Regions from separate parts of the Homo sapiens genome. Here region 2 is linked to region 1. Evidence: fine-mapped expression QTL. Tissue or cell type: esophagus mucosa. Region 1 holds a variant in brackets; the other region holds the start of a gene. All regions are shown on one strand. Distances are between the middles of the regions.

Evidence for each region. PIP is the estimated chance that this variant, and not a neighbour inherited with it, causes the effect.
Region 2: it holds the start of COLCA1, and the variant in region 1 is the best candidate, but not a certain one, in a credible set for the expression of COLCA1 in esophagus mucosa (GTEx, PIP 0.61).

The regions. Positions count from the first base shown.
Region 1 is chr11:111,357,292-111,362,468 of GRCh38, reverse strand. POU2AF1 (POU class 2 homeobox associating factor 1) reads left to right here. Exons shown (of 5, transcript NM_006235.3): 2 at 3,551-3,681; 3 at 4,632-4,674; 4 at 4,759-5,024. Among named protein-coding and RNA genes, the nearest start is that of MIR4491, 12 kb to the right of the region's middle. RefSeq lists enhancers at 2,891-3,185, 3,946-4,792. The variant T/C (reference allele first, on the strand shown) is at 2,665.
Region 2 is chr11:111,302,963-111,308,139 of GRCh38, reverse strand. COLCA1 (colorectal cancer associated 1) reads left to right here and starts at 3,092. Exons shown (of 2, transcript NR_169237.1): 1 at 3,092-3,312. It overlaps POU2AF3 (POU class 2 homeobox associating factor 3), which reads right to left. Exons shown (of 5, transcript NM_001271458.2): 3 at 3,158-3,212; 4 at 1,517-1,746; 5 at 1-71.

The DNA of each region.
Region 1 (5,177 bases):
GCAGCAGGGGGAGTGGGAGTGGGGATGACTTATGGGTACAAAAATATAGTTAGATAGAATGAATATGATCCAGTATTTGACAGCACAACAGGGTGACTATAGTCAACAATAATTTATGGTACACTTAAAAATAACTAAAAGTATAATTGGATTGTTTATAACACAAAGAGGTGACAAATGCTTGAGGGGATGGGTGCTTTATTTACCCTGATGTGATGAGTGTGCATTGCATGCCCGTATCCAAATATCTTGTGTACCCCATAAATATATACACTGACTATGTACTCATAAAGATTAAAACCAAAAATGCTGACGTGGCCATGGGGTGACCCTGAGAAAGAGTGAGTTGAGTGTGGCAGGGCAGGTGCCCTGTTCGCTGACACGTCAGATTGTACCTGGGGCCTGTGGTCATCGCTGGGCACCACCCAGCAGTAGGGAAAGTGGCAAATGGAACTTGTGCAAGAGTGACTCACCCAGAAGGAAGGTGGGGAGACTAAAACCATGTCATTTAGAAATAGCTGAAGGAATGAGAAGTCCCTTCAGACCTAGGGGGACACCTGGTATCTGTCCTCAGATTTCGGAAGGGAATATTACTACTAATACTCATGATAATCGGAGCTCACATGTATTAAATGCTCTGTGCCAAACTCTATTCCAAGCACTTCACATGCAAATCTTAAATTACCCTACAACATACATACCATTATGATCTTCACTTTATAGATGAGACAGCTGTAAATGGACTAAGAAATGTGAGTTTCATTAGAAGGTAATGGAGGGAAATATGGCATGTGTTACCATAAGTTAGCCTCAGTAGGAGGAAGAGCTGTCTGACATGATAATATCCCCCCGAAAGGAAGGTGGAAATGGCCAGAAGGAAGATAATTAAAACCACATGTATTGAGCATCTACCCTATGCCAGACATGGCCTTTGGAGCTCCCCATGTATTATTTTGGTTAATCCTCACAACCACTGTGTGAGAGAAGAATTATTATTCCCGTTTTACAAATGAGGAAATTGAAGCCCAGAGACATTAAATAAATCTAAGAACTTTCCACCAGTAAGTGACAGCCCAGATTTGAATACAGGTATGTGTGGTTCTCAAGTCTACTGTCATTGGTGTTCAGAGCAAAGGTGGAGGCGCACAGGTGGCCCCGGGGCACAGAACCAGGCTGGTTCCCCTGCTAGACACTCCTATAGCAGCCTGAATTTCACAAGTTGTGACACATTCATCTGCTGGTAACTTTTGTTGCTTGTCTTCCCCGTTAGACTGCAAGATCCACGTGGGCGGGGGCTCCATGGGTCCTGTGCAGTGCTGTACTCCTAGGCACTAGAAATATTTGAAAAAATGAATGAATACCAGTAGAGATCTCTTGTTCAGACAGGGGAAGTTAAAATAAGGATAATGAATCTCCTATTGGGATGTTATCGGGAGATTCTTATGTTAAATTAGGAATGGATTATCAGCAGTTGTAATCCCAGTATATTTTCAGAAATACTGGACAGATTTTTTTTTTTTTTTTTTGAGACAGAGTCTCTCTCTGTTGCCAGGCTGGAGTGCAATGGTGTGATCTCAGCTCACTGCAACCTCCACCTCCCAGGTTCAAGCCATTCCCCTGAGTCAGCCTCCCAAGTAACTGGGATTACAGGTGCCTGCCACCACATCTGGCTAATTTTTTGTATTTCAGTAAATATGGGCTTTCACCATGTTGGTCAGGATGGTCTTAATCTCCTGACCTTGTGATCCACTCACCTCAGCCTCCCAAGAGAGATTTTTATACATACAGATTCCTAGGCCTATATCAGCCCCCTAGAATCAGACTTTCCTGGAGCAGGACCTGTACCTGTATATTGCATCATTTCCTGGTTGATTTGCTACCTGGCCAGCTGAGGGACCTTGGAGGATGGGTCTAAAGTCCACCTGAGATACTGGGATTCCTGACCCCCAACATCTGCCCCTGGGACTCATTTCCCACTTCCTGTTGCCTCTGCCCAAGCTTCTCTCTGCCTTCTGGGCTTCAAGGCCAGGCCTTGCTCGTGGCTGGAGCCTGGAGGGAGGTCTGGTGCCGAGTCAGGCATGGGACCTTATCAGCTGGGTATTTACTGAGCAAAGTTCAACCAGGGCAGTGCTGCAGATCCGGGTTTAACAGATACCTAGGCTTCCGGGACTTTGATTCAGAGCCCAGGTCCCTGGGGCCCTTATCGGTGGATAATAATGGGCTCCCTGTGGAAGTCCTAAGGTCTAGTGTTTCTTGGCTGACCCAGGCCTGCTCTCTGAGAGCCCAGGATCCCTAGGCCACAGGCTGTCTAGGTGGGCAGCTTGTTGCTTCCCAGCCACGGCTGCTTTTCAGTTGCTCTCCCAGGCCAGGAAGGGCCCTATGCACTGGCTCTTATTTGGGTCAATGCTTTGGTTTCCTGGCTTTGATGGCAAGAGGGGAAGGAAACCTTCCCTCAGCAGCAGGTGGACACTGTCTGGCCCCAGGGTACAAGGATCACCCTTGGGTAATTGTCCCATGCCCTGAAAGTCACTGAGAACCTGGGAGCCACTTGCCTCAATCCTAAAGGTGTAGGAGAGGTGAAGGGAAGACAAATGGCAGCATGTCTTAAAGAATCACCCAATCGATTAATCAATAAGTATCAACTGAGCTTAAAACGCATGGGCA[T/C]GCCACTGGGAAGACATAGAGAAATAAGGTACAATAACTCACCTTGAGACGTTTATAATCTAGTTGTGGGTATAAGACACTTCCATCAAAAAGAATAACTATTACATAATAGACTGAATTTTTTTGAATGCCTACCCTGTACCTGAATTTATTTGAGGCATATACTGTTCTACCAATTTCCCACATCAAGTGACTTCTCTCAATATTCCTTTGATAAAGAAACTGAAGATTAAGAGGCACAGAGAGGTTTAGTAACTTGCCCAGGATCACACAGGAAGGTGGTGGCAGGGGCAGGATTTGAGGCCTGTGCTATCTGGCTCAGAGTCCCTGCTCTTATGGCTGTCCTCTACTGCCACCTATGATGAATACTAATCAGATCTGGAAATGTTTGAGAAGCTGTAGAATGTGGAAATTACTCAGGCTGCAGGGGTCAGGCAGGAGGGTTGCATTTGTCTTGTGTCAGCAAGAATCAAGAGGTTGGAAGAAGTGAGAGGGAATTCTGACCACGGAAAACCTCAACCACAGATGAGGAGGTGAGACACGCAGGAACACGTAGAGAACACAGACAGACCTTCTGGTTGGAGACAGGGTTTGTGTAGTAGGGAGTGTGCAAAGTGGTGAGAAAAATGGGTTCGGATCTCATTCTGAAGACTGTCCAATTCTAGGACAAGGAGCTGGGCCTTCGTTGTCTGGGTGCAGGGGACCCACAGAAGGTTTGGGAGTAGGAGGAGTGACAATACTGGAGAGGCATTCTAGGAAGTGTCACGTGGTTCTCCGTGTTCAAGCACGACTTAGGGGAGCAGGCAGATCCATGAGGAAATGAGCACTTTGGGGTGGGGGCTCGTCTGAGAAGGACCATGGGCTCCAGGGACATTGCTTTTCACAGCCACAGCTCCGGAGCAAGCCCCAGCCCCGGCCCGGCCATACCAGGGCGTCCGTGTGAAGGAGCCAGTGAAGGAACTGCTGAGGAGGAAGCGAGGCCACGCCAGCAGTGGGGCAGCACCTGCACCTACGGCGGTGAGAGTTTGTGTGTGTGAGAGTGTGAGTGTGTGTGTGTGAAAGAGAATGTGTGTGTCAGGGATAGTGTGAGAGTGTATGTGTGTGTGAGTATGTGTATGCGTGTGTGTATGTGTTTGTGTGTGATAGAGTGTGTGAGAGTGTGATAGTGTGAGAGAGAATGTGTATCTGCGTCAGTGTGTGAGAGTGTATGTGTGTGTGAGGGAGTGTGAGTGTGTGAGTGTATGCATGTGAGTGTGTATGTGTTTGTGTGTGATGGCGTGTGTGAGTGTGTGATAGTGTGAGAGAGAATGTGTATGTGTCAGTGTGTGAGAATGTATGTGTGTGAGAGAGTGTGTGTGTGTGAGAGTGAGTGTGAGAGTGTGAGCGTGTGTGTGAGAGAGTATGTGTGTGAGGGAGTGTGTGTGAGAGAGTGTGTGAGTGTGTGAGAGTGTGAGTGTGAGAGTGTGAGAGTGTGTGAGAGAGTACGTGTGTGAGAGAGTGTGTGTGTTTGTGTGAGAATGTGTGTGCGCGCAGGCAGATGGCTTGGGAGGTGACCAAAAGGATCAGGCAGGAAGGAGCGCAGGTCCCTTGGTGGAGGCTGCCAGGGATAGAGCTAGGGTGGAGCAACTGGGATGAGGGATCAGGGCCGGCTCAGCTGGCCCACCGAACACAGCTACTGTCAAGGCCTGAGTGAGCGAATGACTTGCATACCCTGGTGTGAGTTGGGGGCCCCCCCTGAGAAGAAGAAGACACCAGCTCCCTGAGCGCACAGACTTCCTGCTAAATAGAAACGCAAATCTCTCAAGTGTAGGTGGTGATGGTTGGGATACGGGGTGGGATGTTTTGTTCTAACCAGAGAGATTCCTATCTTCTATTCTCCTGCCCTGAGGCCCTCTGGGCAAGTTCTCTGCACAGGGCCGGTTGACGAGGGCTAAACATTGACCCTGGTCTTCTCCTCTCCCCTCTAGGTGGTGCTGCCCCATCAGCCCCTGGCGACCTACACCACAGTGGGTAAGAGTGCCCCGTAGCCCTGGTGGCCCCCAGGCCTCTCATCTGGGTGGCATCTGAAGTTCTGTAATTTCCTTCTTCCCACAGGTCCTTCCTGCCTGGACATGGAAGGTTCTGTGTCTGCAGTGACAGAGGAGGCTGCCCTGTGTGCCGGCTGGCTCTCCCAGCCCACCCCGGCCACCCTGCAGCCCCTGGCCCCATGGACACCTTACACCGAGTATGTGCCCCATGAAGCTGTCAGCTGCCCCTACTCAGCTGACATGTATGTGCAGCCCGTGTGCCCCAGCTACACGGTGGTGGGGCCCTCCTCAGTGTTGACCTATGCCTCTCCGCCACTCATCACCAATGTCACGGTATGTCACACAAAGGCAGGACTGCACCCGCCCATGCTGAGTGCACCCTTTTATAACCAGAGCTGACTTCTCGATCCTGATCTTCCTTGCTATTGATTCTCAAGATAATCAGGTCATCAGAGCTCGCCTTGGTCTCCATGGAGGCCTGCTCTG
Region 2 (5,177 bases), 54 kb after region 1:
AGCTGCACTGGCGAGTAACTGTAGTCTAAGGAGCCAGAGAGAATGGAGGAATTTGAAGGTGATCCTGGGATCTAGAGAAATGACAACCAAGAAACAAAGAGCTTAATAACTTAGACAGGATCAAAGAACTGAACAGTGTGGGTTTACCAATGCAGAGTGAGAAAATGAGGGGTAAAAAACCAAATCAAACGAAACAACACCCAACCCAAGTCTGCAGAAGTAATTTTATTTGCTGACTACATGATTTCATGACACCACAATCTATAGTTACCTATTTCTTTCCAAACAATAAATTGCCTTGCTTCACTGGCTTCCTTTGTTATAATCCTACTTTAGAGGGTGCTCGTTCTGAAACCACAAAATCCCATTGTGCTTCAAGTCACCTGCATATCAAATCCTGCTGTATGCCACAATCTAAGCTGTAGGTGGCACCCTGGATGTTTCTCCACACCCTCACCATGAAGAATCAGGTGATCATGCAAAGGCATAACTTGGATCTTCAAGGATCTTGGAGTATCCCTGGCATATGCCAAGATGTGTCACTACCTGTCTCGCCACTAAAGTCTTGTTCCCTGGAGTGAGAGCTACTGTCTGTTTTCTCTTAAGCAAGTCTACAATTGTTACTGAGAAAACCTAACTTGGAGGCTGGGAAGGAACTGGGTCACTGGGGCCCCATATTTTCCCCGTGACAATGTGCATATTCTGCAGAGTTAATTTCCCATCCGCTCTAAAATTTAGTCTGATGCCCACACAGACTTTTGACAATCCAAAGGCAAAAAGTATTTACATTCCTTAAAAAAGAAAACTTTACAATTTAAGGTTTACAAAACAAACCTGTGAGTCTCTAAAAGACAACTGAAATAACTAGTTTCCACTAATAGAAACCTTACTTCATTTTGAAGGATAACACATTTTCAAACATTTGAGATCCACCGAGAACAACCAATTTAATTTTTTTCAAAGATTACGGCTTCATTTTTACTAACCATCTCAGACCCAAATGAGTTATTGTGCTTATAGCAGACTCAAACTATCAGTTAGTAGAGCCAGTTCAATGACAAAACAAAGCAAAACCTCCCCCTAATGAAATGAAGTTTGTTACCATATATACACAGCCTTAATTCCATTTCCAAGAACTCAAAATTCCATCAAAAAATCCAAGAGCCATTGTTTAAACCACTGACTTCCAATTAGTAGGTCTCTTGACTTTACAGTTTAAAAAACATTAAATGAATATTGCCAGGAACCTCTTTTTATTGCTACCCACCAACTTACTTGGTGGCCGAAAAATCTAAATCTTGGGAAATCTAAATTACGTGTGTATCCAAAGGTTTATGCCCTGCAGTGTGTGGCTACTTCTATACATTGACTTTTAAATTCTTCTCTGCTTGTTTCCTTGGATGATTTCCTTGCTGATAGTTTTTGTATGATTTCCCACGGGATGGTGCAAACTCACAAAGCACTATTACCCCATAGTTAGACACAATCAGGTATATAAAGAACTGAGAAAAATTACCAGGCTCTGGTTAAAGCAGAAAGGGGTGGCCTGGAAGCTGTCTGGGAAATGGTGTGGAGCACTTTGTGTGGAATTGAGCAAAGGCTCCGGGTGCATCTCTGTCTGAAGGTAGGAATCAAAGATCTGGTCGAGGCAGCTTGAGTTTTCTTCACATGAAACACAACTGGAAAATTCTCCCCGTTGCAAATAATTGGGCGTGGAAGAAATTGGTTCAGGCTCAAAATACAGTCCTAGAGGAGAAAGGAAAAAGGCAGGTTTTTGCATAAAAATTGCAAAACACAGATTTGAATGGAGATCTATACTCTGAATATTTACTATGTCTAGGGGGAAAGGGGGCTTAACAAATCCAGAAAAGTAAACGGGAATGCAATTTTGACTCTTTAGTTGTCCTAGCTAATTCAAGCTCCAGGGAAATGAACATGGTTAATAATGTGGAAACTGGCTGTAAAACTGGTTAGGGCAAAAATAAAAGGATGGTGACCCAATTTGTGTCCAAGTGTCACAGTCAAATAATGGCTCAAACTTCCCCTTTCTTGGGCTGTAAAACCATGGACATCCAGCCCCTACCGGCAGTTCACGTAAACCTCTCAGAAGTAACTGACAAAGTTGTTGAGGCTTTGAGAAAACTTCTGATGCTACGGGAAATAATTCTTTTGACTTATGGTGATTGCTTTTTTGAACTTTTCACTCTTACTCAGTAACTTAAGTTTGGAGGAGAGAATTTTGAGAAGTGATTTAAATGAGAATGCAAATGATAATCATGGAAACCAGGAACATAGAGTACCAATTAACACTATTGGCTCGGAAGTACAAAAAGCAAAAATGTTTTCTCAGTGAACATGTTAACATCATGATGTGATCAAAGTAAGTTGTTAAACATCAAACAAAGATAATCAGTAAACATTACTCCTTTTCCATTTTATTATTAATAGGCCCAATTTGTGATAATTATCTGTAAATGCTGGAAGAAGAGAGGATTAGAGTGTGCTCATCAAAGGGACTAAAGGACACTGTGTTCTTCTTGAGGTCTCAAGTTCCTTTAAGGTGAAGCTACGGTGACACATTTAGTGGGGAGAGGCCATAGGCAGAGGTTTCCTTATATACGACCTCCTTAAACTCTTAGCTGTTGAGTAGCAGAGGTAGGAGTGTTTATGTAATCGAGTTATTCTTATTGGGCTGAGAAAACCTACACTTGTTTGAACTGCTTTCTGGGAACAGAGAAGGGGAGGGAAGCCCCTGTCGGCTGGAAACTAAAGGAACAGAGCAAAGGCATTATTTGAGTGTCTTGGGATGTTCTGTATTCCATCTAACAGTGCACTAAAAAAAGATAAGTTCCTGAGAACAATTCTGATTTTGTAGTTCAGTTTAGTTACTTGGCGATGAGGAACTGGAATAAATGTGAAGAACAAACTCTTGAGACAATATAGCAGAGAGTAGAGAATTCAGAAATGAAGACAACATTTATGCTTGTTTTCTTGCTGGGCTTGCATGTGGAGTGACTATGCCTTTTTCACCTTCTGATTGGTTGGATTCCAATTAAATGGTGGTGCCTATCTTAACCCCTGAATCAAGACTGAAAGACTTTTGAGATGGACTTTTGAAAGAGTGTTTGAGGGAACTGTTAATGCTGGCTGTACTGACCTGCAGAAGATGGTGCAACTGGGTCTGAAAGGTGGACACTGCTGCCTCCGGACCGCTGTCAAAGCAAGAATATCACCGTGAAGCAGGCTGAAAGAAATGCTCTGAAGGGAAAGCTAAGACATTTTGATGAGGACTATGTTTCTTTCTGCTATAAGGTAAGCCAGATTCTTCCTTCTCAGAAAAAGTTGCTTTCTTTTTTTTTTTCAATGTTTGACAAATTTTTGTACAAAATATATTGTAAAAAACAAGTGAAAGGGAAAGTGTCAACAAATATTTTATAGAATTTGAAAGACAGGTGCATAGAATTGCGGTAGGTGTATTAAGTCCGTGTAGAATTTAAAATGCCTTTTGACGTTTATAATCCTTTTAAGATTCAATCTGGAAAATTGCATTGGAACAATGAAAACCTGAAATCGAATCATAAAACAGACTTCTTAAATACAACCAATATTATGTTTTATCTAGATCCAATATTTATGTTTGCTTGCTTGGGGAGTTTTTTTCCTAATATCAGATTCTTCTACTTAAATTTTAAAAGTGATTAATTTTTAGTAAAAAATTAATGTAAATAATTTTATGTGGTAAAAATGTAACAGTTTGAGAAAATGCAGCAAAAGGCTTCCTATTAAACTATTCGATTTAAAATTATTAAGGACTAACATTTATTTAATCTCAACTATCTATGGCTTAGTCAATTATTTTTCTCAAAAATTTCATATACCATCTGGCTACTTAGCCTTAGGGAGTCGTTTCCCCAAAGAACACAATTCTTAATTTTGTTAATTCTGAGTAGCTAAAAATATTCACATGTTCTTAGTATACATGAAATATTAAAATAGAAAATATTTTCTTAAAGCTGTGGTTGGTGAGTTGGAACCTACTTTCATTCTAGTTAATGGTCGGGAATTATTCCAGTACTTTGTATGTTTTGTACTACTATCTATAAAAGTTGCTTTTATTTAAACTACTGTATTTAAATACTTAAAAGTTTATGAGACTGCTCTTTTTAACTATTCAAAGTAAAGCAGCCTGCATTTTTCAGTTGAATTAATAATTATACTGAGTAATTTAGGATTTTTTTTTTTTTTTTAAATTTCAGGTGTGGCTTTAAAGTTTAAAGGTACCCGTATTGCTCTGTGATTCTGTGCTGGGAAGCCGAGCTCACCACACCTCTTTTGGGTTACAGGGCATACTCACTCCCATACTCTGAGCCACAGGGAGAGCTGTGCAGGCAGCCACTGCTGAAACAGGAGGCAGTATTAATTTTGAAAACGATCCATGCTGTAATGTCATGAACCAGGAAGCTGGAATCCTTTACCAGCTCTTTATGCAAATATTTGGCTGCAGCTTGAGCTGAAGGACTTGGAAGGAGTGGGTATTAAAAAATCTGCCTCATTGTAGAGCTTTCCTTAACTCCATTCCTCCCCCGGATTGGCCTGTTTGTCTGCCTCCACCCCATGTTATCTCCCTGAGGTGTGTTTACAATATCCTACTTGATATTATCTTTCTAGTCATGGGTTCACTTTCTACTTTGCTCCAAGAATACAAAGAAAGGCAACTCTCTCTTAGATTTCAAACAGCACAAAAATTCACAGTCTACAATTTATAAAAACACATCAAGGCTGTTTAAAAAATTAATGATTTAAAAAAAGAAAGGTAAATGATATCTTTTGATAACGACTAACTCAAGTTTCCTTTTACCCCAAAGGCAAGTGTGTGTGTGTCTGTGTGTGTGCGTGCATGCGCATGTTTGCAAATTGATCTGGCTGAAATAAGTTTTTTAAAATCGAGTGTTCCAATCCGGCATACACACAGTTTCTTCCGGCACTGCTTGAAGAATATTTGAATTCTTTACTGAATGTCTGTCTCAACCTATAACTTCCATTCGTGATTGCCTTCTTAAAATTTTAAATTGTGGATACTACACTGACTTTATAACAAATTAAGATAGATTTCTTGCCACTTTGTAGTATTTGATATAATTAACCCTCTCCTTGGCTTAAAGTTTCCCAGAGGCATC